Homo sapiens: one gene and its partners. The protein of the gene in region 3 purifies or fractionates together with the protein of the main gene of each other region. This does not show direct contact. Each region holds a gene or a part of one and is shown on either strand. Other genes may lie near its edges.

Region 1 (4,115 bases), on a different chromosome or scaffold from region 3:
TTTCTAAGTAGCCCCAGTGTAGCCATGCATAATCTCCATTCTATCAGGGAGCCACTTCAGAAGAACTTATCCTATACCTAAGTTCCTAAAGGTTATTTCTTTTCTGTTCTAGAATAATACCTTGCTTCACATTTCTCTCCTCCTTCTCCCATTACTTTTCTCCTCTATGTATCAACTATAACTTTGTTCCTTTCTGTCTCTATAATACATAGGCAAAACACTTTCATTTTGTATTGAATAGAGTTTTACGTAATTAAGTTTAAAACTGAGCTACTGAAGCTTTCTTTTAATTTTTCCCTTTTTAAGCAAAGACAATGCTTATAATTGTCAATCTTGACTTTTTCTCTCTATTATTGAATATTCTTAACTGTTCATATTTAATAAGGCAGTTATATTCTCTTGAAGAGTTCCCATCAGGACTGTAGTCAGTCTTGAGTATCTGAGGCCTCACTTGATCCGTGGCCCCACTATTCCTTTGACAGTCTTTAACTCCCTGTCATAGCTGAGGGTTAAGATAACTTCATCCTTTCTACCATTTATGTTTCCCCTTTAACCCGCCTCCTTGGAAATCTGGTGAGATTTTAAGAAGGGATCTTATAAGCTCATATCTGCATTGTTGACCTGTTTTTATATGTTTGTATGACATATTCTTTTTCCCTGCTGGTTTGTAACTGTTTCTTTTTTTTTTTTCTTCCTGGAGTTATATTATCTAGGTTTGTTATATTTATATTTAGAATTATTGTATCTATATTTAACAAAGGATGATTTTCTTCTATATTTCTTTTTTCCTTTTTTTTTTTTTTAGATGTCTTTGGTTTGTTCTGGAAATATTAATGGCTAAAAATGAAAATAACAGTCACGCTTTTATCAGAAAGATGGTAGAAAATATTAAACAAACAAAAGATGCCCAAGGACCAGATGATGCAAAAATGAATGAAGTATGTAATTCTTTGTAAATAATTATGGTTCCATATTGATTTAAAAATTTAGGTGTAAAGTATGAAACTTCTGTAGTATTTATAGATAGCATCAAATAATTTTTTCTATTAGTAATTAGAATTACGTAGAATTAGCAGTAATTTTATTACAAGTAAATGAGCAAAACCAGTAGTGTAAGCTAAGATGCTTACACAGACTGTTGCTTTCATTAGTTTGCTATTCAGACTGGATTCATGTTCTGAAATTATTCCTAGTTTACAGAGTCTAGATTGCCAGCTTAAGTATCTGTGTTTTTAAAAATATACTATTGCAGAAACTGTACACTGTGTGTGATGTTGCCATGAATATCATCATGTCAAAGAGTACTACATACAGTTTGGAATCTCCTAAAGACCCGGTACTACCAGCTCGTTTCTTCACTCAACCTGACAAGGTAGTTACTTTACAATTTGTTTGTGTAAGTTGAAATAAAATGTATTCTCAGCACTGGATTGTAGGAAGATCAGGAAGGATCATGGAAAAATTGCTGTGAGTCTTAAGAATGTGATTTAAGATCAGAACCAGAATATGAGTCAAACTGGAGGACACACATAAGGTTCAGATATTAGGATGATCTGGTGTTTATGTTCAGTTTTAAGACAGTCTTAGAGCGCAGGTAGAAATGTGATCAAAGCATGTGAATCTGTGAATTAATGGCCATTGTTCAAAATGGGAAGGAGAGTGCTGATAGAGATACAGTCTGAAGTTAAAAGCCCTTTATTGGGATTTATAATTGGTATGAGGAAACAAGCAGAGAACAGACACTAGAACATGCCTAAGACCCTGGGAATACTACAAGAGTGTTACCAAACCATGCTCCAAAAACTCGAGTGTGATATAAGATGTAAAAAGTGTTTCCCACAGTCCCTCTTACTCCTTTATAATTTATTTATTTAATTCCTCGTAATTTAGCTGAACATATTGAGTAACAGAGTCTGGAAATAACCACTATCCTCTTTTTGCTTTTAAAGCAAAATGCCAGTTAAGACCTTACCAGTGTATAGAGATTTGGAACAGGCCTGTAGGATTGCTCAGTAGCTAAAAGGGCTGTCACGTTGGTGTGAGCAGAGTAATAGGAATATGTACATGTGGTCTTTCCCCTGAAGGGTGTTATTAAAGAAGCATGTGTTTTCTGATGCACTCTTAGAGCTCTAACATGTTAGAGCTCAAATATGTTTTGTTAATATTAGAGTTGGCATGAGGTTGGTTTAACCTTATTACAGTAGTTAAAATCAGTGACTGAAATTTTGTGTTTCATATGATAATTTAGTTTAAATAAAAAAACTGCTGTTTGCTTTGTTGGCTTTTGAACCACCTGTAGATAGTGTTTTAATATTCACTGACTACTTCTTTTTCTCTTGGTTGTAGAATTTCAGTAACACCAAAAATTATCTGCCTCCTGAAATGAAATCATTTTTCACTCCTGGAAAAGTATGTTTTGAGAATCATTTTAATTTTTATGTGGTAGCTTATTTTAGAGTGATTATTGGCAAAATTGTGTTATTTTGTATTTCTTCAAAAATTTATATTTTCAAGCTGGAAAATATAAGAATTAACGATCTTACATTTACTAGTAAGAAATAATTATATTTACTAGATATACACAAGCTGAAATACACAAATTACTTTTTAGCTTGTAATAAAGTCCTAGGAGACCTGATTCTTAGACTTCTTAGGTTAATATCAAGATAAAAAAAATCTTAAAAGGCTTTTTTTTTTGAGACGGAGTCTCTGTTGCCCAGGCTGGAGTGCAGTGGCGCATCTCGGCTCACTGCAAGCTCCGCCTCCTGGGTTCAAGTCATTCTCCTGCCTCAGCCTCCTGAGTAGCTGGGACTACAGGTGCCTGCCACCACGCCTGGCTAATTTTTTGTATTTTTAGTAGAGACGGGGTTTCACTGTGTTAGCCAGGATGGTCTCGATCTCCTGACCTCGTGATACACCCGCCTTGGCCTCCCAAAGTGCTGGGATTACAGGCGTGAGCCACTGCACCCGGCCAAAAAAGCATATTCTTATGTCTTTCCATGGCAAGAGTCTAATTATCTATTTTCATTGTTGATTATTCATTTCATTTGTTCTCACTTTTTATGTAAGCCGTTTTCTCCAGATAACTAAGAAATTCAACTGTTATGCTGTCTGTATAGTTTTTAATTTGTTCAAGTGATATTTAGTTTATACTTATTACTTTGCTTAAGGATAGACACATTTTTCATGATTTGTAAGTAAATACTTTGAGAGAGATGTTATTTATGGTTCTTTACACGTAACTTTCTTTTGGCTTTAACCAAATAAAAAGAGATGTGCATTTCTCATTTCAGCCTAAAACAACCAATGTTCTAGGAGCTGTTAACAAGCCACTTTCATCAGCAGGCAAGCAATCTCAGACCAAATCATCACGAATGGAAACTGTAAGCAATGCAAGCAGCAGCTCAAATCCAAGCTCTCCTGGAAGAATAAAGGGGAGGTAAGTGCAAAAGAAATGCCACAATTTACATTTAAGGATTCCAGCAAGGCTATGAGATCTGAAATAATATAATCCAAAATGTTTCATGTCAGTAAATGGAAAGTAATGTATTACTTAATTTTTCCATTTAACATTGGTAGTCACAAGTTCATACTTATTTGCTTGCTCATTTTGGATGGGTGCTCTGTCTTAGTCTTTCATTCTTTAGCTTGTTGGGGGTAATCTGTGTTAGTACACATAAACTAGTTTCCAACCTCAGTGTGTAGCAATTGTAAAACTGTTGTATTATGGTGTATGATACAATGGAATACATAGTCATTAAACATGATGAGGTCTGAGTTAGTATGGAAGAGTTTCCACAATACATTATTGAGTGAAAAAGGCAAAGTATATAAAGCAGCATTATGGAATCTTTAAGTTTTGAAAACAGATTAATGTTCACATTTGTTTTTATATGCATAGAAAGTTTTTTTGAAGAATATGCAAAATCTTAACAGTATTTATGTTAACCTAGTATAGAAAGGGAGGTTATTTTATACTTTTTGGTATCATTTGAATTTATTTGTATAGTACCACGTACATATATAAACTTCGTTTTTTTAAAAGTGTGTTTTTGCTTTTTTGTTTTTTTTAAATTCAACTTTTATTTTAGATACAGAGGGTACATGTGCAGGTT
Region 2 (4,115 bases), on a different chromosome or scaffold from region 3:
CCTCTTGTACTTGTAAATGTAGATGAGCTCATTGTGGAGACTTAGGGCTGTGGGCTGGTCCGAAGAAGGTACGGTAAGAGGTAATGACAACTCTGGAAAAGCTGTTAACTTTCAGTTTTCAGACAGGAATGATGAAAAAGGCAAATCTTAGGAGTTTAAACTGATGAAGAGAAATACAGTGGAATCAAACACTACTTTTGGTTAGTGTTTAAAGCCAGCAATTAGGGTGAAAATCTTGGCAAGGCATGGTGGCTCATGCCAGTAATCCCAGCACTTTGGGAGGCTGAAGTGTAAGGATTGCTTGAGCCCAGGAGTTTGAGACCAGCCTGGGCAACATAGTGAGACCTTGCCTCTGCAAAAAAAAAACCAAAAAACAAATATTAGCCGGGCATGGTGGTGTACACTTGTAGTTCCAGCTACTTGGGAGGCTGACGTGGGAGGATTGATTGAGCCTGGGTGGTTGAGGCTGCAGTGAGCCGTGACTGTACCACTGGACTTCAGCCTGGGCAAGAGTGAGACCCCATCTCAAATTTCAAAAATGAATTTTGTTTCTTTAAAAAAGTAAAAATCTCAAGTAGATGAAATTTAAAATGTACGACGTGGACAGTCATGCACACTGCATAGACTGCATATGCAAAATGTGATTTTTTTTTTTTTTTTGGAGATGGAGTCTCGCCCTGTCGCCCAGGCTGGAGTGCAATGGTGCGATCTCGGCTCACTGCAACCTCTGTCTCCTGGGTTCAAGCAGTTCTCCTGCCTCAACCTCCCAAGTAGCTGGGATTACAGGCGCCCACCACCATGCCCAGCTAATTTTTTTTGTGGTATTTTTAGTAGAGACGGGGTTTCAACATGTTGGCCAGGCTGGCCTCAAACTCCTGACTTTGTGATCCACCCGCCTCGGCCTCCCAAAGTGCTGGGATTAAAGGTGTGAGCCACCATGCCCCACCGATTTTTTTTTTCTTTGTAGAGACAGGATCTCACAATGTTGCCCAGGCTGGTCTCAAATTTAGAGACCCAGGTGATCCTCGTGCCTCTGCCTCCAAAAGTGCTGGGATTAGAGGTGTGAGCTACTGCACCTGGCCCACAATATGATTGTACAGTATTTTAAATTTCTAGTTTGTTTGTAATTAATTTTTTTCCCAGCGCACATCATTGAATTTCTGTAAGTTAAATGTACATGATATGGCCTCAATGAATAACTCTCTGCTTCTCTTTCAGGCGAAACTTGGCCTTGAGACAAATATCAAAATAGAGTGGTGGATGCAGTTGGGGAAAATTGGAGCCTTTTAATAAAATGACATGCTCCAAATCCTGGGTGGTTTCCATTTTCAGGATGAGGGATTAAATGTGTCTGGAGACAGGGCACAGGGGTAACTAGTTCTTAGTCTTTGAAAAAAAATTTTTTAATTTTTAATTTTTTTTGTTTGAGACAGAGTCTCACTCTACTGCTGCCCAGGCTGGAGTGCAGAGGCGTGATCATGGCTCGCTGCAGCCTCAGCGTCCCCAGGCTCAGGTGATCCTCCCACCTCAGTAACTGAAACCACAGGCATGTACCACCATGCCCAGCTAAATTTTTATATTTTTTGCTAAGACAAGGTCTCACCATGTTGCCCAGGCAGATCTCAAACTCAGGCCAAGCACAATGGCTCACGCTTGTAATCCCAGCACTTTGGGAAGCCAAGGCAGATGGATCACTTGAGGTCAGGAGTTCGAGATCAGCCTGACCACCATGGCAAAATCCTATCTTTACTAAAAATACAAAAATTGGCCAGGTGTGATGGCTCTTGCCTGTGATCCCAGCACTTGGGAGGCCGAGGCTGGGGGGATCACTTGAGGCCAGGAGTTCAAGACCAGCCTTGCCAACATGGCGAATGCCTGTCTCTACCAAAAATACAAACATGTAGCTGGACGTGGTGGCACACACCTGTAATCCCAGCTACTCGGGAGGCTGGGCATGAGAATTGCTTAAACACAAGAGGCAGAGGTTGCAGTGAGCCAAGACTGTGCCACTGCACTCCAGCTTGGGTGACAGAGTGAGACTCTTGTCTTAAAAAACCTACAGGAACCTCCTGGGCTCAAGTGATCCCCCCGGCCTTGGCCTCCCAAAGTGGTAGGATTACAGGCGTGAGCCAATGTGTCCTGCTGGTCTTTTAAATTTATTGCAACATTCTGTCACAGTAGTGCTTACTTGCCCCTTGCTGAGGCCTATTAGCTTATCTTCCCTGTCTTATCTGAGCTGTTCTCTTCTCCAGGCTTCTTGCACCTGGGTGGCCTCCGCACTGCCTTGTACAACTACATCTTTGCTAAGAAGTACCAGGGGAGCTTCATCCTGAGGCTAGAGGACACAGATCAGACTCGCGTTGTGCCTGGGGCAGCGGAGAATATTGAGGACATGCTGGAGTGGGCAGGTAAGCCTGGCAGAGAAAGGATCTTTCTGCAGGGAAGGAACAGGAAGCAGGAAAAGGAGCCTGTGGGTCTTCTCATGGAGTTCTGAGTGGAAAATGGGGAGTTCCTGGAGAAGTGGCTACATTTGTACTGCCCTGCCCGGGGTGGCAGATGACACCTGAAAAAATGCCGAAGCTCTCTGAAACACAGCTCCAAGACTGGTTTCTTTATTTTTATTTATTTATTGTTTTTGAGACAGAGTCTTGCTCTGTTGCCCAGGCTGGAGTGCAGTGGTGCGATCTCGGCTCACTGCAAGCTCCGCCTTCCGGGTTCACGCCATTCTTCTGCCTCAGCCTCCAAGTAGCTGGAACTACAGGCGCCCGCCACCACGCCCGGCTAAGTTTTTTTGTATTTTTAGTAGAGACGGGGTTTCACTGTGTTAGCAAGGATGATCTTGACCTCCTGACCTCGTGATCCACCTGCCTCGACCTCCCAAAGTGCTGGGATTATAGGCATGAGCCACCGCGCCCAACTTGGTTTCTTTATTTTTTAATTTTTTAGAGTCAGGGTCTCATTTTGTTACCCAGGCTAGAGTTCCATGGCACAATCATAACTTACTGTAGCCTCGACCTGGGCTCAAGTGATCCTCCACCTTAGCCTCCCAAGTAGTTGGGACTACAGGCACGCACCACCACGCCTGGCTAATTTTTAATTTTTTTGTAGAGATGAGATCTCACTGTGTTGCCCAAGCTATTCTCAAACTCCTGGGCTCAAGCAATCCTCCTGCTACAGCCTCCCAAAGAGCTGGGATTACAGGTGTGAGCCACTGCCAAGGCTGTTTTGAGATTCCTGTTTTCACCTCAGAATCTCAAGTTCATTCCCTACAGGGGCCAGGCAGGAAACACAGGGCCAAGTGGGAACTGGAGGAGCTGGGCCAGTGCTGAGCTGTGAAAACCACACCTCATCCAGAGTTGGGAGTGCCTCTGAGCTCCAGCTCCTTGTGCCCATGCGGGAATGCTGGCCCAGCTTGTCCAATCCTCTGAGTTGCAAGAGGAGCCAGAAATCCAGTTTTTCTGGATGAATACTTAACCATTATTAAATCTGGGCTCAGATTTTTTTTAACCATGTTGTATAAGCCACACAAAACACGTACAGCTTCTGAAGTTGATCTTGTGGGAAGTTTTATCCTGAGGACAGCTAAGGTCAGGGAGAACAAAGAGGAGTGTGTTTCCTTTTCATGGGTCGACAGTTGTCTACCTGTATGGACGGGTGTGACTAGGAAAGGGGAGATTCCCAAGGAAAAATACCAAGACTCTGCTAGTCTAGAGATTGAAAAAAAAAGAAAGAAAAACCCCAAGACTATTTTGAGATGTGTGTTCTAATCTCAGGTAAATTACTCACTAAACTCTGGATTCCTAAAGAGTATAAAATGGTTGGCCGGGCGTGGTGGCTCACGCCTGTAATCCCAAAACTTTGGGAGGCCGAGGCTGGTGCATCACGAGGTCAGGAGATCGAGACCATCCTGGCTAACATAGTGAAACCCCATCTCTACTAAAAATACAAAAAATTAGCCAGGCGTGGTGGCGGGTGCCTGTAGTCTCAGCTACTCAGGAGGCTGAGGCAGGAGAATGGCGTGAACCCGGAAGGCGGAGCTTGCAGTGAGCCGAGATTGCATCACTGCACTCCAGCCTGGGTGACAGAGTGAGACTCTGTCTCAAAAAAAAAAAAAA
Region 3 (3,610 bases):
CCCGAGCCTCAGATGAGAGGAGTGGGAGTGCCTGGCTGCGGCCGGTGGGGGTGGGTGGGGGAGGTGCCCGAGGCTGCTTCCCAGAGCTGTTCTCGCTGGCTGCTGTCTGAGCACTGGGGTGGGTGGGGAGGAGGGCGGGTGGGGGCGGGCAGCCTTATCCTGCGGGGCTGCTTGTGTACAAGTACCACGCGGCCTGCCTGGCCCTGAGCCCTGGGCAAGGAGGCGGAGGCTGTTTTTAGATGAAGGTGACTTTACTTGAGAACATGGGTTACGTCTCATGTGGCCAGAATCGAATTCTAACCTTTCTGGGGCTGTGGCCGAGGGTCAGGCGCCGTCCCTCCTCCTGCTGCTCATGGGTGGAGGCTCCTGGTGCGGCGGGCGAGATGGGGTGGTCCGTGGGGTGGGGGCGCTCTGCATTGTCCCCGAGGAGCCTCTATGGAGGCTTTCTCTTCCGGACGCCCCCCCACCCCCAGTGACACGTCAATACACAGACACCAGCATCATCAGCATCCGGAGGGACACAGGGTTGTTCCATCCAAAGCCTTTTGGTCCCTTTGGGAGCGATGCTGCCCGCTGAGAAGCTGGCGGACCCAGCGGGAGCACCGGGACCGGTGCAGATGGCGCCTGGGAGCCCGGGACTCCTGGAAAGGTGGCTGGGGGCAGCTCGGCTGCGGGCCCCACCTGGTCCTCCTCACTTTCCTGTGTGCCCTGCCCTGCCTGGAGGTGGGGTGAGGTGAGTCAGGGGCCAGCCCTCTCCTAGCACCCCTGGGTGAGGAGGATGTGGAGCCCAGCCCTGCAGGTCTGGAGGATGAGGAGAGGGGCTGCTGCAGGGCAGGAAGGAGCTTGCCAGCTGGGCAGCCTCTGGCTGTGCTTCCTGCCCTGACTCACCTCGCCCAGCTCTGCACATAGCTGCCAGTGTTGCAGTCTGGGAAATCTTAACTCCCAAGAAATGTAGGTTACCAGGAGGAGATCCCTTTGTGAAAATGGCACTGCCAGCCAGGCGCGGTGGCTCACGCCTGTAATCCCAGCACTTTGGGAGGCCCAAGAGGGTGGATCACGAGGTCAGGGGTTCAATACCAGCCTGGCCAAAATGGTGAAACCCCGTCTCTACTAAAAATACAAAATATTAGCTGAGTGTGGTGGCAGGCACCTGTAATCCCAGCTACTTGGGAGGCTGAGGCAGGAGAATTGCTTGAACCCGGGAGGCAGAGGTTGCGGTGAGCTGAGATTACACCACTGCTGAACAGAGTGAGACTCTGTCTCAAAAAAAAAAAAAAGAAGAAGAGGAGAAAGAAAATGGCGCTGCCAAAACTTGTCAACTGCGCCTGCCCAGAGCTCACCTGAGGTGCTCAGACGTGAACATTCCTGTCCCCGTGGCCTTGGGGGCCGTGACCTGTGCACTGCCACGCAGCCTCGGAGCCGTGTGCACGCATATGCACGTGTGTATGTGTTGTGTGTGTTTGCAGACGTGTGTCCTTGTGTGTGTGTGTGTGTTGTAGCGGTGCCTGGGGAGTCTGACCTCAGAAGGTGCTGTGGGGAGGGCTGCAAGGTCCTGGCGGGAGGAGGCACTCCCCACGCTTCCCCTTGGGCTGGGCTGTTCCTGGCAGGCGAGTGCTAGGCACAGTGTGAGGTTCTGTGTGGATTCTGCTGTGCTCCTTGGCAGCTCTGGGGGCCTTCCCTTGCATTTCGAAGGAAGGGGAGGCGTGTGGCTGGAGGTGAGAGGCCCTGAGGCCCTGCCTGGCTCCCAGCTTCCCAAATCCGCCTCTCTCTGGGTCGCCGCCCTCAGAGATTGCTGAGGACACGAGCTTTCCACCCACGGGCTGTCCTAACGGAGCCGGGCTAGGGGCTTCTGGACAGAGGCCGCCTGCCCCTTTGGGCTTTGGGGTTTGTTTTTCTCAGCAGCTCACCCGGGTCTCTGGGGTCAGGGTATCGGGCAGAAGTCAGAGGACGGTGCGCTTGGGACCTGAGCTCTGGGCAGCCCTCGGGGCTCAGGACTCCTGGCTCTTCTGCCCAGTTTCATGTGTTTTGTGTTTTGAAACCACGTGTGGTCCCACAGTTGTGCCCTCAGAAGCCGCCGTGGCTGCCGTGAGGTAGCAGTGGACGGGACGCCCACGGTCTTTCCCATGCCATGCTGTTTCCAGCCGGGCCCCATCACTCTCCCACAAGCTGAAAGGAAGTGGCTTCTCCACCAGCCCTGGCTGGGAGTCCTGTGGGCGAGGCCTTCCCCAGGAGCTGCCCTCCCAAGTGCCCCAGGCACTAACAAGACCCCACGCGTGCTCTCCCCACAGCCGGCTTCGTCCAGGCGCCGCTGTCCCAGCAGAGGTGGGTGGGGGGCAGTGTGGAGCTGCACTGCGAGGCCGTGGGCAGCCCGGTGCCCGAGATCCAGTGGTGGTTTGAAGGGCAGGGTCCCAACGACACCTGCTCCCAGCTCTGGGACGGCGCCCGGCTGGACCGCGTCCACATCCACGCCACCTACCACCAGCACGCGGCCAGCACCATCTCCATCGACACGCTCGTGGAGGAGGACACGGGCACTTACGAGTGCCGGGCCAGCAACGACCCGGATCGCAACCACCTGACCCGGGCGCCCAGGGTCAAGTGGGTCCGCGCCCAGGCAGTCGTGCTAGTCCTGGAACGTGAGTGGCGGGCACCTCCCTCCCCGCCTCCCTCAGTTTCCCTCCTGTGCCGCTCGCCTCCCGGCTCCTGCTCAGTAGAACCCAGACGCCTCCTCCCCTCTCCGTCCCGCTGTGCCCCGTTGGGCCCACCGCCTGGACGGAGGGGCCCGGACCTGAAGGGGGTGGGCTCGCCGCCTGACCACCAGCGCTGGGCGGCCTGGCTCGGGGCAGGCAGGGCTCTGCCCTCCAGCAGGTGGGTCCTCGTCCTCCCCTCGACCCTCGTGCCATCCGTTCCGTCGTTTCTGCTTCCCCGGGCGCCTGCCCGGCTCCCTCCCTGAGCGTCCATACTGCAAGCCTGAGGGGCCCTCCAAGCTCAGCCCAGGCTTGCAGGTCTCAGAACCTTCTGTGTCCTTCGCAGCATCTCGTTCTAAGGGATTTTCAAATTTCAATTCCTAGCGGGAATATTGTAAACTAACCAAGAACCAAGAGATTTGCTTGGTTGGGGATTGGCAGAAGAACCGGGGTGCTCCCAGCACTGCTGGAGTGCCGTCAGCCTGGGGCTGGGGGGATGTGGGGCCACCTGAGTGCCTCCTAGAGAAGGGCACGGGAGCCTTGGCCGGGGGTGCTGTGGCTATTTTTTTTTTTTTTCCTGGAGATGGAGTCTTGCTGTTCCCAGGTGGAGTGTGGTGGCACAATCTCGGCTCACTGCAACTTCCGCCTCCCGGGTTCAAGCGATTCTTCTGCCTCAGCCTCCTGAGTAGCTGGGATTACAGGCATGAGCCAACATGCCCAGCTAATTTTTTGTATTTTTAGAAGAGACGGGGTTTCACCGTGTTAGCCAGGATGGTCTCGATCTCCCGACCTCGAGATCCACCCGCCTTGGCCTCCCAAAGTGCTGGGATTACAGGCGTGAGCCTCCGCGCCCGGCCACCACCGCGCCCAGCTGGCTACGTTTTTAGAAAAGAATTTCCAGTTTGTGCTGGGGCTGCTACAAG
Region 4 (4,115 bases), on a different chromosome or scaffold from region 3:
AAAGGACACCAAATCTGTTTTTATCACTATAGGACACAGTGAACACAGCACGTTGATTATTTGAGAATAATTGTTTACATGTCATTTCCCACTACGAGACTCTGAATATCTTGAGGACTAGAATACCATTTCCTTGGCACCTAGTACGGTGGAAAATAAAGTCATGAATCCTAGCCAGGCATGGTGGTACACACCTATAATCCCAGCTACTTGGGAGGCTGAGGTGGGAGGATCACTTGAGCCCAGGAGTTCGAGACCAGCCTCAGTAACATAGTGAGACCCCATCTCCAAAAAAAAAAAAAAAAGGCCGGGCGTGGTGGCTCACACCTGTAATCCCAGCACTTTGGGAGGCTGAGGCGGGCGGATCACGAGGTCAGCAGTTCCAGACCAGCCTGACCAACATGGTGAAACTCCGTCTCTACTAAAAACACAAAAATTAGCCGGGCATGGTGGCGTGCACCTGTAATCCCAGCTACTCGGGAGGCTGAGGCAGGAAAATTGCTTGAACCTGGGAGGCAGAGATTGCAGTGAGCCAAGATTGCGCCACTGCACTCCAGCCTGGGTGATAGAGCGAGATTCCGTCTCAAAAAAAAAAAAAAATTGTACAGGCTACAGTTGGAAATGCGTTTTTTTTTAAAGACCAGATAATTATTTGAAGTCAAGTACCTACTGTTCTTTGATCAACCCAATACTGAATACCTCCTCTGTGCTGGGTACTACCAGGGATATGAAGATGAACAAGATGCCATCCCCATCCTGGACGTTCCCCTGGGTTGCAGAGGGCAGGGTGGGTGGGTAATGTGTAAACAAGTTGTGAGGGTTCAGTGAACAGAGACAAGGAGCAACATGCATGCTGCAGAGGGTTCCTGAGAGTGCTGCAGAGGAAAGGGACCATACTCAGGAAGACTTCACAGAAGCGACTTTTGAACCCTTCAGGAAGACCAGGAGAGGATCCTCGCCAAGGCAGGGATGAGGAATGCAAGATGGGAGGCTTGGGCCCCAGAGATTCATCAGTGATATTAAAGTGTTGGCCCAGATGGGGTGGTGGGTAGATGGAAAATAAAGATGGACCTCCCCGCCTCCTCCCCACCATCCACCATCAGAAGACTGGAGGTATAGAAACAAGTTAGGAGGCTGCTCTGTCCCAATGAGAAATGCAGGATGCCTGAGATGCCTGAGCCGCAGCAGTGGAGGCACTCAGGGCACAGCCAAGAGATGAGGAGGATTTACTGACAAAAATGCCAGTCACCAAGAGAGAGACAAATCAGACACCTGTTCTCAGTGCTGTGATGGGCTGGGTCTGGTAGGAGGCAAAGGATGTGTTAATTATGATACAAGTAGCAAGTGTTGGATGTCATGAGAAATAGCTAAAAGGGCTCAAACCCATCATTGTTTGGCCCAGGAACATATGAAAACATAGGTACTTGTTTTTCTAAAGTGTTTTGCTTTTTCAGGATGGGATAAATGCCATAACTAATCCATAACTAAGAGTATCTGTTCAGTGTCACTACAGTTCTGTTCCTTTTTTCTTTTTTTATGCAGATTACCCCACATTCCTAAGCATGTTCATATCTCAAGCTTTTTATGATCATTTCACATAAAATATTATTCAATTGAGCAAGCTGAGACAAGGCAAGTTGTTCAAGAATGAATGTGATCAAGTCCAGGAGGAAGCCATACCTCTCACTTGTCCCTGCCTTGAAGCAGTAGCAGAACTTGCCACCCAACTTGAGCAGTGTGCCACTGCCAGCCAGCTCTTTGGCTCAGGTTAACTGCAGAATAATTTTCCGTGCTGAGAATATTTGTTAAATATCACCATCTCTTCATTATGCTTCTGTAATTCTACCTGCCTGGCAGCTGTCTGCAGGCCAATATGTCAGGTGATAAGCTACCAACTGCCATGGAGCTGCCCCTTTAGTTATCTTTGATTTGGGGAAAACTGCAAAGTGATATTTTTACCATTTTAGTATGGGTCTAAGCAAGGGGTGTGTGTGCATGTGTGTGTGTGTTGTATGTTTTAATGTATTCATACACTAATCATGGGCCTTTTTCTTAGTATTCTTACATTCCCGTGCATGTGACTTTCCAGTTATGTAACTTGCTGTTAGAAAACTTTAGATTCCCTTGGTTCCTGAAGTACACAGAAGTGGTGTTCATTTTCAGAGTAGAAACTGATGTGCCTTTCAGAATGGCTGACAAATTTTGGGGGTAAGAAAGTATGTTACATGTCCTTAGAGAGAGAGAAAGAATTGATTTATGAAATAGTACTTTTAAATTTTTCTTCAGATTTGGTATCATTACCGTAATTGGTAGACAGTAAAACCTGTCACTTGAAAATGAGCATCTGTCACGTTACCATTAATAACGTTAACGTACGCTAGGCCTAAGACTCCCTGCAGTGACCCATCTTGTTTGAATGAATTGTCTTTGTGTGTAGATAATAAACCTGCTGAAGAAGTTGTCCCGGCCAGCATTCTTCTGCATTCCAACATTGCCAGCCTTGTCAAAGACCAGGTGATTCTGAAAGTGGACTCCGGAGACTCGGAAGTGGTCGATGGGCTTATGCTCCAGCACATCACTCTCCTCATGTGCTCAGCTTATAGGAACCAGCTGCTCAACATTTTTGTGCGCCCATCCTTAGTAGCAGTAGCATTGCAGATGACACCAGGGTTCAGGAAAGGTAATTTTCAGGAATGCAATCTTGACTTTTAGAAGAGGTCTGGCCATTCCATTCCATTTAGGGAGCCACATTTGAAGCCTTGTAATGTTCAGCCTCACGCCGGTGAAGAGCAGGCCTATCACTGAGAAAAAGTTAGCTTTGTTCCCCAAATACTTGTTCATCTGCTTCGAATTTTGGAATTGGGAGGACCTGGAAATAATCTAAACCTTTCCTTCTATAAATATGGAAAATGAGGCCTAGAAAGTTGCATAATTACTGAGAGAAGGATCTGGCATTTGAGTACAGTTCTCCACTTCCTGGTCTGCGGCACTGTTTTGGCTGTGCCAGCTCCCTGATCCAGCAAAGGCAGGTGGGCAGATGAGCAGTCAGCAGTCGATGAGTACTCCCGAGATGCATGGTCTTGTTCTAATTGTATCAGGAGTATAAAAATGAGTACAGTACACGTCATGTTCACAGGAGCCTGTAGTCAAGGCCAGGGGGTTCTGTCAAGGCCCTATGTTAGAATTACTAGGGGAGTGAGCCCCACCCCAAAGTTTCTTCAGTTGACCTGGGGTATGGGCCAGCCATTGGTGTTTGGTTTTGGTTTTGGTTTTGGCTTTTCAAAGCTCCACAGTGATTCTAAGGAAAAGTGCTACAGATATAATAAAGATACCAGGAAATATGAATATAGAGGGAAATTAAGAAATCAGTACCTTTCCTTCCCTACTAGGGAGCCATGGGGTAGGGAAAAATGAAGCGTCCTGGCCTCTAAGGACTGTGATGTCTCGCTGAGTAGAAGCCTGGTTGTAGGTTAGAGTCAATCATTTAAAAACTATGCTAGGGCCGGGCGCAGTGGCTCACGCCTGTAATCCCAGCACTTTGGTAGGCCGTGGTAGGAGGATCACGATGTCAGGAGTTCGAGTCCAGCCTGACCAACATGGTGAAACCCTGTCTCTATTAAAATACAAAAATTAGCTGGGCATGGCGGCGAGTGCCTGTAATCCCAGCTACTTGGGAGGCTGAGGCTGGAGAATCGCTTGACCCCAGGAGGCGGAGGTTGCAGTGAGCCAAGATTGCACCATTGCACTCCAGCCTGGGTGACAGAGCGAGACTCCATCTCAAAAAACAAAAAACAAACTATGCTAGACCGTAGTTTGCTCTGTGGGTAAGATTTGGGTTTAATTTAGCTTCCCTCAGGGGACTTAATTCTTGTCCCTGTTACATGAATAAAATATGCCTTTGAAATACATTTTGTGATAGTAAGGACTTCCTGGTACTCCCTTAAAGTTTAAAGGGCAATGTTGTAATTTTACATGATGCATTTATTTCCAGAGGATGTCTACAGTTGCTTTCGCTTCCTACGTGATGTTTTTGCAGATGAGTTCATCTTCCTTCCAGGAAACACACTAAAGGTAAAGTGCTTACAACAAAGAGCAAGTATGTTTGCAGTGTGAGT
Region 5 (4,115 bases), on a different chromosome or scaffold from region 3:
CCTGGCCTCTCCCCGCTCCCGGCACCCACACCAATTTCGGAGCAAAGTTGTGGGGGAGCCCAGGTGTTGTCAGGACCAGGCCGCGTGTGCATGTGCTCAGGACGGCACTGACACACCAGCCCCCTGCTGCCTCATCTCCCTCTGGACTTTGGGCAGGCCAAGCGGTAGGCTGAGGGCAGCTCAATATGGGCCTGCAGGCGCCCCTCGGCACGAACAGCCTCGGTGTAGTGGGTGGCAGGTTGATGGCAGCAGGAAGTAGGCTCCTGGGAGGAAAGGGGTGGGTCCCCAGTGAAGACCCACCTTCAAGCCAGGAACAGCTTGAAGCCTGGAAGCCTGGCTGCCAGTTACACGGACCACAGCGAGAACTTAGGGTGCTTTTTCCAGGCCCACCCATGACTGCCTATGGACCAATTAGCATTCACTTCCTCCCTTCTGAAGCACATAAAAACTAAATTTTTGGTGGAACGCTAATACCCTTTTCCACAGTGGCTGTACCATTGTACACTCCCACCTGCAGTGGACAAGGGTTCCAATTTCTCCACATCTTCACCAACACACGTTATTTTCTGGGTGTTTTTTTATTATTATTTTATTTTCCCCTTTTGGCGACAGGGTCTAACCCTGTTGCCCAGGTTACTGTGCAGTGGTGCACCCATAACTCACTGCAGCCTCAACCTCCCAGCCTCAGGAGATCCTCCCACCTCAGCCTCCTGAGTAGCTGGCACCACAGGTGCATGTCACCACACCCAGCTAATTTTTTGTATTTTTTGTAGAGACAGGGTTTCACCACGTTGCCCAGGCTGGTCTCAATCTCCTGGGCTCAAGCGATCTGCCTGCTTTGACCTCCCAAAGTGCTGGGATTGTAGGCATGAGTCACCATGCCCAACTGTGTTTTTTTTTTGTGGGATTTTTTTTGTTTTTTGGTTTTTTTTGAGACAGAGTCTTGCTCTGTCACCAGGCTGGAGTGCAGTGGCATGATCTCAACTCACTGCAACCTCTGTCTCCCGGGTTCAAGCAATTCTCCTGCCTCAGCCTCTCAAGTAGCTGGTACTACAGGCATGCACCACCATGCCTGGCTAATTTTTTGTATTTTAGTAGAGATGGGGTTTTACCATGTTGGCCAGGATGGTCTCAATCTCCTGACCTCGTGATCCGCCTGCCTCAGCCTCCCAAAGTGCTGGGATTACAGGCATCAGCCAACATGCCCAGCCCCAACTGTTTTTTTATTAATAGCTATCATAATGGGTGTGAAACAGTATCCTGTGGTTTTGATTTGCATCTCCCTAATGATTAGTAATTGTGAGCATCTTCTCATGTGCTTATTTGTCCATTTGTATATCTTCTTTGGAGAAATGTCTATTCAAGTTCTTTTTCTGTTTTTCATCAGGTTATATTTGTTGTTAAGCTGTAGGAGTTCTTAATATATTCTAGATATTAAACTCCTTATCAGACATATGATTTGCAAATATTTTCTCCAGTTCCATGGGTTGCCTTTTCACTCTATTGATACTGCCCTTTGATGCACAAAGTTTTTAATTTTGATGAATTCCAATTTATCTGTTTATTTTGCTGCCTGTGCTTTGTGTCATATCAAAGAAATCATTGCCAAATCCAGTGTCATAATGTTTTCCCTCTATGTTCCCTTATTTTTATTTATTTATTTACTTTTTGAGACAGAGTTTCACTCTTGTTGCCCAGGCTGGAGTGCAATGGCGCGATCTCAGCTCACCGCAACCTCCGCCTCCTGGGTTCAAGCGATTCTCCTGCCTCAGCCTCCTGAGTAGCTGCGATTACAAGCATGTACCACCACGCCTGGCTAATTTTGTATATTTTTAGTAGAGACAGGGTTTCTCCATGTTGGTCAGGCTAGTCTGGAACTCCTGACCTCAGGTGATCCACCCATCTTGGCCTCCCAAAGTGCTGGGATTATAGGTGTGAGCCACCATGCCCGGCCCCCTCTATGTTCACTTCTAAGAGTTTCATAGTTTTAGTTCTTATGTTTAGGTATTTGTATGCCTTTTGGACTTTTAAAATTTTCCTGTAGCAGTAAAGAGAGAAGCCAGATTGCAAGGGGCTGAAAATCTAATGAAATGTGAATACTGAGAATAGCGGGTTCTTTCCAAAGCTTGATCATGAAATGAAGAGAAGTAGAGTTGGTGATAACTAAAGAACTGTATGAGATCAAGAGGGCTTTGTTTTGTTTCTCCCTTATAATGGAAAGACCTAAGCAACCAATTCTTGAGATGTGACTCCTCTTCTTGGAACCAGATATAAGTAAAAAGACAATCCTTGGACAGGAGGGTAACTCTTTCATAAACATAGAAAGAATGGATGGGTACAGACGCAAATAATTTAATAAATTCAAAAGGCAAGTAAAACAAGATCCTCTGCTTCAAAGAACTCAGAATAGTTGCTGGGGAGAGGAGAGGAATGCACTTAAATAATCAAAAGCGGCCGGGCATGGTGGCTCACGCCTGTAATACGAGCATTTTGGGAGGCTAAGGCAGGCGGATCATGAGGTCAGTAGATCTAAACCATCCCGGCTAACATGGTGAAACCCCATCTCTGCTGAAAACACAAAAATCAGCTGGGTGTGGTGGCGGGCGCCTGTAGTCCCAGCTGCTCAGGAGGCTGAGGCAGGAGAATCGCTTGAATCTGGGAGGCGGAGATTGCAGTGAGTCGAGATCGCGCCACTGTACTCCAGCCTGGGCGACAGAGCGAGACTCAGTCTCAATAAATAAATAAATAAATAAATAAATAAATAAATAAATAAATAATCAAAAGCAAGTATCATGTACACCCAAAGCAGGGAATGATTAACTCTACCTAGAGGATTCACAGTGGGTTATGTGTGAGTGATTAGCAAAGTCCATCACTTCTGACAAAACAACTTAGGGTGTAGTAAGACAGTTACTTATAAATAATAGCATATATTTCATATATGTCACAATTTATTTCTATATAGCACTGTAAAATGTTCATACATTTTCCCCACTTATTATCTCAAATAGTGGTAAAAGAAAAAGAGTGAATTTTTTTCTTTTTCTGATACAGAGTCTCGCTCTGTCGGCCAGGGTGAAGTGCAGTTAGTGGCACGATCTTGGCTCACTGCAACCTCCGCCACCCGGGCTCAAGCAATTCTCCTGCCTCAGCCTCCCAAGTAGCTAGGATTACAGGCGTGTGCCACCACACCCAGCTAATTTTTGTATTTTTAGTAGAGACGGGGTTTCACCATGTTGGCCAGGCTGGCTCGAACTCCTGACCTCAGGTAATCCGCCCGCCTCAGCCTCCCAAAGTGCTGAGATTACAGGCGTGAGCCACCGCACCCGGCCCTTTTTCTTTTTTTTTTCTTTTGAGACGGAGTCTCGCTCTGTCGCCCAGGCTGGAGCGCAGTGGTGTGATCTCGGCTCACTGCAACCTCCGCCTCGCAGCTTCAAGTGATTCTCCTGCCTCAGCCTCCCGAGTAGCTGGGACTACAGGCACGTGCCACCACGCCCGGCTAATTTTTTGTATTTTTAGTAGAGACGGGGTTGCACCATGTTAGCCAGGATGGTTTCGATTTACTGACCTCATGATCCATCCGCCTCGGTCTCCCAAAGTGCTGGGATTATCGGCGTGAGCCACCACGCCCGGCCTGACTTTTTTTTTTTTTTTTTTTTTTTTTTTGATTATTCAAACCACAAAGTCCAATCCTAATTGATTACATATAGGATCAATAGCATTTACAGCTAATAAATGCCATAAAAGAACTGATACTGGTCGGGCATGGTAGCTCATGCCTGTAATCCCAGTGCTTTGGGAGTCCAAGGTGGGCAGACTGCTTGAGCTCAGGAGTTTGAGACCAGCCTGAGCAACATGATGAAACCCTGTCTCTACAAAAGAAATAGAAAAATGAGCAGGTATAGAGACACACACCTGTAGTCCCCAGCTACTCAGGAGGCTGAGGTGGGAGGATCGCTTGAGCCTGGGAGGCTACAGTGAGCCAAGATTGTGTCACTGCACTCCAGCCTCGGTGACAAAACCAGACCCCTGTCTCCAAAAAATAGAAAAGAAAAAAAAGAACTGTTCTCTGGTCCTGGTACATAGTAGACATTTAAAGAAAAAAAAACAACTCT
Region 6 (4,115 bases), on a different chromosome or scaffold from region 3:
CAGTAAGTTGTTTCATGAGTAGCACTGAACTAAGTTTGTCCTCATCCGGTACCCTAAGACAGCTATGAAGAACACATAGGATGGATTTCAAGGCAGAGACCTAGGGGTCAAACTGCACCATTTCCACGTACCAGCTGGGTAATTTGGGTAAGTTACTTGTCTTCTCAGCCTCAAACTTCCTCATTTGTAAAATGGGAATACCTGCCCTGCCTAGTTCACAGTACTATTGGTAAATAAGACATGATCATGTTTTTAAGAACCCATGCAATTGCCAGGTGCGGTGGCTCACGGCTCTAATCCCAACACTTTGGGAGGCCGAGGTGGGCGGATCACCTGGGGTCAGGAGTTCGAGACCAGCCTGGTCAACATGGTGAAACCTTGTCTCTACTAAGAATACAAAAATTAATCAGGCATGGTGGCATGCGCCTGTAGTCCCAGCTACTCGGGAGGCTGAGGCAGGAGAATCACTTGAACTCACGAGGCGGAGGTTGCAGTGAGCTGAGATTGCACCACTCCACTCCTGCCTGGGTGACAGAGCAAGACTCGGTCTCCAAAAATAAAAACAAAAAATAAAAAAAATAAAAACCCAACAACTTTATTGTGTGTCATACTCACCAAGGGCTCAGATGTTTGCTAACTGTATGTTCTCCCCACTAGCCTGGGAGCTCTCCTAGGACCTCCCTATTTGGACAGGAGAGTGGCTTTGGCTGGTGGTTCTTATCTGTCCTCGCCCTGGCCTGCCTTCAGCTGTTGCAGGCACCTATTTGGAAGCCAACCTCACCTTTCACCAGGGTGTGCTTGTCAGTGGGAGAAGATCGCGCCAGGACCCGAAGCTTAGGCCAGATCTTGTCCAGCTTTTCTTGCTCTACCTGCCAACACCAGACCACACCTGGATCAGTCAAATGCAGAAAAGCTATCCAGGAAAATCTTAACTTCTCCATACACTTGGAGTCACTGGGAGATTGGGTACACCACAGTCCCACATGAAAGTGTTATTCTGGATTAAGCAGAGATGAAACAGCCAACCAGTCTCCAAGGGTAGATTCATGGATGATGACCATTCAGGCCCTGCTTTTTTTCTTTTTCCTCCCAAGTCCCTACCTGGCAGCCAATCCCCCATTTCCCAGACCTTTAATGGGAGGTGGGCCAGGGTTGGCTGTTGGCTCGGGTGGGTAAAGTGGTGCTTCTGAGGTCTTAGGTTTGATTTCTATGTAGCTCAGGAAAGCTTGGATCTGTGCCACCGCCAGACCACATTCTCCTTTAGCCACTGTTAGCCAAAGGGCAGGGACACAGGAGGGGTGGGCTAGGGGGAAGTCAGTATAAAAAACTGAAAAAGCAGAAAGACAAGAAAAGTTAGTGACACTGTCTCAAAAGATAGCTTGTGAATGAAGCTAGCAAGCTTCATTCACAAGCAACTCCCCCCCTCTTTTTTTTTTCTTTTTTGAGACGGAGTCTTGCTCTGTTGCCCAGGCTGGAGTGCAGTGGCATGATCTTGGCTCACTGCACCCTCCGCCTCCCAGGTTCAAGTGATTCTCCTGCCTCAGCCTCCCCAGTAGCTGGGACTACAGGTGCACGCCACCATGCCCAGCTAATTTTTGTATTTTTGGTAGAGACGGGGTTTCACCATGTTGGCCAGGATGGTCTCTATCTCTTGACCTTGTGATCCACCCGCCGTGGCCTCCCAAAGTGCTGGAATTACAGGAGTAAGCTACCGCGCCCAGCCGGCAACTCCCAATGTTACCATATCAGCAGTTTGGTACAAGGAGATGTTTCACTACGAATAGCTTTCACTTTAGAAACCACCCACCTTCCCGCACATGACCCAGATGCCTTATGCTAGAACCCGCCTTTTCCTTGTCAGGTGAGGTCCTGGTTCCCCCTAGCCAGGACCCACCTCGCCTTTCTCGTTGCGGATGAGCCGGTTGAATTCTTTGCCTTCTAAGCACAGGAAGTCATCCCCAGGTGTCAGAATGCCACATTTGGTGGCAATGGCCCGGGCTGTGTTGATGTTGTCACCTGTCACCATTCTGACAGTAATGCCAGCTTGTTTGCATTTGGCAATAGCATCTGGCACCTATGGAGAGTGAAGAAAGGGGAAAGGCGCAGATGAGGGTGATGACCCTGGTAAGCTGTCCCTGTTTGTCTGTCCCTTTGTGGCAGACAGGAGAAAGGCACCCTAGAAGTGGTGCCATGCAGCATGGGCTAGGTCTGGTCATTTTGATACTGTTGGGTGCCACCTCACTTCTGTCCTACCCACGGCAGTCACATTTGAATTTGCCCTATTGTACCATGAGTTGAAGGGGAAATTTGCTTTGGGAGTGAGGTGTAAAAACTTGCTCTTTCACTTACAATTGAGACTTCTCGGCAGGGCATGAATGGCATTTTGCGATTTGGCCAGTGCTTTCTTTTCTAGCAGAAGCTTTTGCCACTCTCCACCCACCTGGCCCATGTTCCAACCATATCAGCTCTTTGTAATTTCCCACATGCATGACACCCTCTCATGCCTCTGGGCCTTGAGAATTAATAGTCCATCTGTCTAAACTTCTTAGAAGCAGAGACTTTTCAATCCCCTAGTGTCTAGAATAGTTATCAGCACACAGCAGGTACTCAAAAAGAATGTGTTGATTGAAAGGAGGGAGCTAAAGACAAAGTTGGTGTCCTGGCTAAATTGACCTCCTGACAACACTTAAGTACCAAATAATGAGCCCAATAAGCCCTTTGCTTCTCAACACTCAGACAGCATTAGTCCTAGGAATGCCACATTCGATCATACTGGCACTCCACAGCAGTCCTGTGAAGCAGGAAGCACAGAAACTTCTATCCCTCTAAGTGAGAGGCAGTTAGGTTACCTGCCTGGGGTCACAACTAGAAAGGGAACTAGTACCCCACTTCCTGAGACTCCTGGGTGGCTTCCCACCCTCTCACCTCTGGGCGCACAGGGTCCTCAATGCCCACCACCGCGATACAGGTCAGTTCGGTGAGGATCTCATTCTCATTGTCCCAAGAGGGCTCTGTGTCATCGAAGTCCCGGTAAGCTATGCAGATAGTCCGGAGTCCATCACAGGCCATGGGCTCGATGACAGTGCGTACCATATCATCTCTGTCTTTATTCTTGAATGGCACTGCTTCCCCTTTCCGGTCCAGGATTCGATTACACCTGGGGAGGCGCACAGTAAGAACGCGGTGTCTCCCTTCCCACTCAATACGTTTCTACAATCATTGACAGGTATTTTGGCAACTCTGTATTATTCCTAAAGACATTGCTCCAAGTGTGGCCAAACATTTCCTTCATTCATCACCCAGCTGAGTCCCTCTTTCCAAGGTAGGTGGGCTGTGGATGGAGTTAAGGTCTAGATATATAGAGAGTGGGATTCTCCCATGTCATCTGTTCTTACCCATATGTGAATGCAATGCAAGTCATTTGTGAATCACCTGCTCTTTTGAACTTCTTGAAGGCAGAGAGACTTTTTCAATCCGAGTATTTAGAATAGTGCTCACTGTGTGGTGCTGGTGGTTTGGGGGAGGTTTCCTATACAAGAATGTGCTGATTAAAAGAAGGTGGCTAAAGCCATGTTGGAGCACTGGTTAATTCAGCCCTACTTAGGTATAGTGCCAACTTTTGATGAACTATGGGTAATTTATTAATAGTCACTTTTTTTTTTTTGTAATGGAGTCTCACTCTGTCACCCAGGCTGGAGTGCAGTGGTGCGATCTCAGCTCACTGCAACCTCTGCCTTCTGGGTTCAAGCGATTCTCCTGCCTCAGCCTCCTGAGTAGCTGGGATTACAGGCACGCACCACCATGCCTGGCTAATTTTTGTATTTTTTTTTAGTAGAGACAGGGTTTCACCATGTTGGTCGGGCTGGTTTCGAACTCCTGACCTCGTGTTCTGCCTGCCTCGGCCTCCCAAAGTGCTGGGATTACAGGCGTGAGCCACTGCGCCTGGCCGAATAGTCACTTTTAAAGTTATGTAAATTCCCTGTAATCAGAAATGGGAATGGGAAGGAAAGAGAAGGAAAAGAGAACACAGAACAAACGTTTCTAGTACTTGTTATGTATAAGGCATTTTACATACATTGAATCATTTAGTTACAGTGAGGGGGTAGTACTTTTAG
Region 7 (4,115 bases), on a different chromosome or scaffold from region 3:
TGCATCCTCTAACTCTCCGGCTCAAGCAGTCCTCCACCTCAGCCTTTGAGTAGCTGGGATTACAGGCGTGCACTCCCATGCCTGACTAATTATTTTATTTTTTGTAGCGGCGAGGTTTAACTTTGTTGCACAGGCTGGTCTTGAACTTCTGGGCTCAAGGGATCCTCCTGCCTCAGCCTCCCAAAGTGTTGGGATTACAGGCATGAGCCACTATGTGCGGCCTCTTCAAACTATTAAACATAGTTACCATATGACCCAGCAGTTTCGCTCCAGATGTATACCCAAGGGAAATAAAAACATATGTTCACGTAGACATTTGTATGCAAATGTTTGTAGCAGCATTATTCCTGATAGCCAAAAGATGGAAACAACCAAATGTCTGTCAACAGACAAATGGGTAAACAAAATGTGCTATATTCATACAATGAAATATTACAATTAAAATATATACAATATTAGCCATAAAAAGAAATGAAGTACTGTACATGCTGCAACATGGATGAACCTTGAAAACATTATACTAAGTGAAAGAAGACAGTAAAACACACACATACACAGATACACACAGTATATTATCCCATTCATATGCAAATCCAGAATAGCAAAATCTATAGAAACACAAAGTAGATTAGTGATCGATTGGGCCTGGGGATGGAGTGAGGAAGGTGGAGTGTTGTAGTTAAAGATACAAGATTTCTTTTTGAGGTGATAAAATGTTCTAAAATTGACTGTGGTGATGATAGCACAGATCTCTGAATATACAAAATTCATCAAATTGTATACTTTCAGTGATTGAATTCAAGTGGTGGTATGCTATGTAAATTATATATATGAAAGTTGTCAGATTCGACATGGAGTCACTTGTGTCAAAGCCTGGCAAAATAGAGCTGGGGGACGGTTATGAAGGGAGAGCTGTCACACATGATTTGCCTGATAACAAGAACTATCACAAGAAATTTTTCTCAACTGCAGCTTACTACACAAGTCACACAGGGACAGCTAGCCACTTAAACAAGAACATTTGCCTGACACACTATCTCACAAGCCCAATCCAAACTGCAAGGGCCTAACCATAACACTAAAATTGCAAGTCCTACTTTGCAATTTACTGACACTCACCAATCAGAACTCACCAGCTCTTATATAAGATGCTGCCAGTGCCAGTAAACTGTCTTTGAAAACAACTTGCATAACCTCCTCTTCCCCCAATAAACTCCAGCCTTTCTTTTGTTTTCCAAACATACCAGAGGCCACCCTGTTCTGTCTGTAGGTCCAAGATAGCAATCCTGCTTCTCGTATGTTATTCCCCAATAAAACCTTTTTACTTAGAGATATGTCTTTATATTTTTTATGCTGACATATCTTTTTCCTTTATTTTTTTAACTGACACATAATATTTATACATATATAGAGTGATGCTGTGATACATGTATAGCGATCAGATCTGTGTAAGAAGAGAATGGGATAAGAAGAGATAGATTAAATTATTCTGGGAATTTTTTATTTTAAAAAAAGGAGTGAGGTTACCTCTTTCATTGAAATAATAAGAAAGTCACAGAGAATAGATGAAGTTGTAAGAGGGAAAAAAACAAGAGAAGTGCCACGTTGAGAAAGGTCACGGCCAGTGGTTTTCTCTTAGGGTAAAACCAAGACAAAAGTCATCTATAAAGATTGAAGAGTTGCACAAGTAGAATTTTAGGTTATTACTTTGACCTTCAGGTCTCTTGATTTTAAAGAAGTTTGTATAAATGTCCAGTAGAAATCATTTTTTCTCTGAAGTACTTGGCCAGCTTAGCAGCAGATACAGAGAACATCTCAATAACATTTTCTTAGAACTTTGAAAGGAAGGTGAATTGGAAAAATCAGGGTGCTAATGAGAGCACCTTGAAATGATGGCTATGGAAAAAGGATGACTATAGACATGGTGGGCTGATGGAGGCTGGAAGCAAGAAGGGGTCATGTAGCATAAATTACAATAAGGTCAAAGAACAAGTTCTTTAGAGTAAAATATACCACCCTTATAGATATGCAAAGCCTAACATGACGTCCATCTGTTTTCTCTGATATTATCTTGTACTACCCTCCTGTTACTTGATCTGCACCTCTGGCCAACACAGCCAGGTATGGTCTCTCCTCAGGGCCTTTGTACTTGCTGTTCTTTCCTCATGGAAAGCAATTTCCCTGAAAATCTACACAATTAGCTCCCTCTTTTCCTTCAGGGCCCCTCAGTAAGCCTTCCTTTGCCTCATCCTATCTAAAATCGGATGGAAAAGGAAAAAAGACTTAAGCATTATTCTCTATCTTCCTTGCTTTATTTTTCTCTTAGCACTTATCATTATCATATTCCATATTTAACTTATTTTAAATTTTTATTTTTGTGTATATCTCTCCTGTTACTGTGTAAGCTTTAAGAAGACAGGGAATTTTTTTTTTTTTTTCTTGACAGAGTCTTGCTGTGTCGCCCAGGCTGGAGTGCAGTGGCATGATCTTGGCTCACTGCACCCTTTCCTCCTGGGTTCAAGCAATTCTCTCTCAGTCTCCTGAGTAGCTGGGATTACAGGCACATGCCACCATGCCACCAGGTCCGGCCGGGAATTTTTTTTTTAAAGCAAGTTCTCTACTATATTTCTGCACCTAGGAAATACTTGGCAAATATTGTAGTGACTTAATATTTGTGGAAGGAAAAGTAGAGATAGAAGGTGGGGCATGTAGACAGTTTCCTTTAAGCTTGAAGATCTTAGAGGTGGAGCAGTTCAAAGTGATGACTCAAATTTGGAAGCCCCCTAGTAAAGCCAAAAAAGGTTATTATAAATGTAGACTTTTAATATAGGACATATTTTAGAAAAGATGTTTGACATTGTAGTTACCAAGGATCTTTAACGGTAGATTTGGAGAACGGGAAAGTGTTAGTTCTTATAATTCAGTGCCAAAATTTCTGCAGAAGTGGGAAGAGGCTTCTGAGGTCAGTAGATGTCATGAGTAAAAATAGTGACATTTAAATAGATGGCTCGGACTTCAACAGAGGATTGCTTCAGACACATTTAGATACTAAGTTCTTTCATGCTTCCATCATGGTCTTGGTATCTTCATCTATTACAGAAATTATTATAATTAGCATTTTACCTGCCAATTTCTTCACAAGACTGTAAAGCACTCTTAATCTCTATCTTCCCAGCACTTTACAAAGTGCCTGGTGCGTAGTATTCTCAGTAAATATGTGTTGAGTGAAATACTTACTGAATGAGAAAACATTAAGAGATAACTATGGAATTATGATGTTGGAGCCAAGAGCATTCTGATCTCTAGGTCATATCAGTGGACCAGAAGGGTGAGAAAAAGAGAAAGCCAAGTTTCATATACATGAAGGAGCAGGTTAGATGTTTTAAAGGTTAACTTTTTAGATGAAGGAAAATTTGTTGTTTATAAAAGAAAAAAGACAATGCAAAAGCTGGTGGAAGGATTGTAAACAGGGATGATGTGAGAAGACAATTAATTATAGGAGTAAGGAAACATGAAAATAATGGTTATAGACATTTGATAGTAATTGTCGAAAGAAAAATGTAAGATCAAATAGTTTGACTGCTAAATGAAAATCAGCATGAATTATTAAAGATATGGGAAGTGCAAGCAGGAAAGAAATGTTTCTCAGGTTACATTTGATGTTGTGAAGAATATTATAAAACAAAGTAGCATAGAACTCCACTTGGGAGTATTTACGTGATTTTAGGACTTCCATAAATACTTTTTATTTTGTCTCACTCTTGTTAGTAACACAAAAATGGAAAATGTAAAAACCTAAGTCTGTACACTTCCCTCTCAGTCAGTGAGCTTTACTGGGGAGGCAGCTATGGATGGAAAGGGCCAAGCTAATGGAGCAGGTCTCTGCAGGCTGGTCTTTCTTCCATATGCTTCGATAACTCTATAGGTATGATTTACAAGTAAAGGCATAGCCCCCATTAGCATTAATAGGATTTTACTGTTATTCTTTTAGTTTAAGGAAACAGATAATACAGTAGGTATTGGTGCATATTATTGTGCATTTATAGTGGGGACTTACGTAGAGATTAAAATGTTAATATAGGCCGGGCACGGTTGCTCACACGTGTAATCCCAGC

The links.
Region 1: the proteins of BSG (region 3) and PDS5B purify together in Homo sapiens (affinity purification with mass spectrometry; 4 studies listed by BioGRID and IntAct, with this or other methods). This does not show direct contact.
Region 2: the proteins of BSG (region 3) and EARS2 purify together in Homo sapiens (affinity purification with mass spectrometry; 4 studies listed by BioGRID and IntAct, with this or other methods). This does not show direct contact.
Region 4: the proteins of BSG (region 3) and GNPAT purify together in Homo sapiens (affinity purification with mass spectrometry; 5 studies listed by BioGRID and IntAct, with this or other methods). This does not show direct contact.
Region 5: the proteins of BSG (region 3) and ATR purify together in Homo sapiens (affinity purification with mass spectrometry; 4 studies listed by BioGRID and IntAct, with this or other methods). This does not show direct contact.
Region 6: the proteins of BSG (region 3) and ATP2B4 purify together in Homo sapiens (affinity purification with mass spectrometry; 5 studies listed by BioGRID and IntAct, with this or other methods). This does not show direct contact.
Region 7: the proteins of BSG (region 3) and COG5 purify together in Homo sapiens (affinity purification with mass spectrometry; 4 studies listed by BioGRID and IntAct, with this or other methods). This does not show direct contact.

The regions. Positions count from the first base shown.
Region 1 is NC_000013.11:32,757,282-32,761,396, forward strand, and holds part of PDS5B (sister chromatid cohesion protein PDS5 homolog B), read left to right. Parts: intron 1-805; coding exon 806-938; intron 939-1,252; coding exon 1,253-1,372; intron 1,373-2,346; coding exon 2,347-2,409; intron 2,410-3,293; coding exon 3,294-3,439; intron 3,440-4,115. UniProt on the Homo sapiens protein: Regulator of sister chromatid cohesion in mitosis which may stabilize cohesin complex association with chromatin. May couple sister chromatid cohesion during mitosis to DNA replication.
Region 2 is NC_000016.10:23,550,442-23,554,556, reverse strand, and holds part of EARS2 (nondiscriminating glutamyl-tRNA synthetase EARS2, mitochondrial), read left to right. Parts: intron 1-2,252; coding exon 2,253-2,408; intron 2,409-4,115. UniProt on the Homo sapiens protein: Non-discriminating glutamyl-tRNA synthetase that catalyzes aminoacylation of both mitochondrial tRNA(Glu) and tRNA(Gln) and participates in RNA aminoacylation for mitochondrial protein translation.
Region 3 is NC_000019.10:575,486-579,095, forward strand, and holds part of BSG (basigin isoform 1 precursor), read left to right. Parts: intron 1-2,288; coding exon 2,289-2,636; intron 2,637-3,610.
Region 4 is NC_000001.11:231,268,321-231,272,435, forward strand, and holds part of GNPAT (dihydroxyacetone phosphate acyltransferase), read left to right. Parts: intron 1-2,437; coding exon 2,438-2,680; intron 2,681-3,991; coding exon 3,992-4,071; intron 4,072-4,115. UniProt on the Homo sapiens protein: Dihydroxyacetonephosphate acyltransferase catalyzing the first step in the biosynthesis of plasmalogens, a subset of phospholipids that differ from other glycerolipids by having an alkyl chain attached through a vinyl ether linkage at the sn-1 position of the glycerol backbone, and which unique physical properties have an impact on various aspects of cell signaling and membrane biology.
Region 5 is NC_000003.12:142,568,734-142,572,848, forward strand, and holds part of ATR (serine/threonine-protein kinase ATR), read right to left. Parts: intron 1-4,115. UniProt on the Homo sapiens protein: Serine/threonine protein kinase which activates checkpoint signaling upon genotoxic stresses such as ionizing radiation (IR), ultraviolet light (UV), or DNA replication stalling, thereby acting as a DNA damage sensor.
Region 6 is NC_000001.11:203,709,919-203,714,033, reverse strand, and holds part of ATP2B4 (plasma membrane calcium-transporting ATPase 4), read right to left. Parts: intron 3,158-4,115; coding exon 2,926-3,157; intron 2,075-2,925; coding exon 1,895-2,074; intron 870-1,894; coding exon 782-869; intron 1-781. UniProt on the Homo sapiens protein: Calcium/calmodulin-regulated and magnesium-dependent enzyme that catalyzes the hydrolysis of ATP coupled with the transport of calcium out of the cell. By regulating sperm cell calcium homeostasis, may play a role in sperm motility.
Region 7 is NC_000007.14:107,284,189-107,288,303, reverse strand, and holds part of COG5 (conserved oligomeric Golgi complex subunit 5), read left to right. Parts: intron 1-4,115.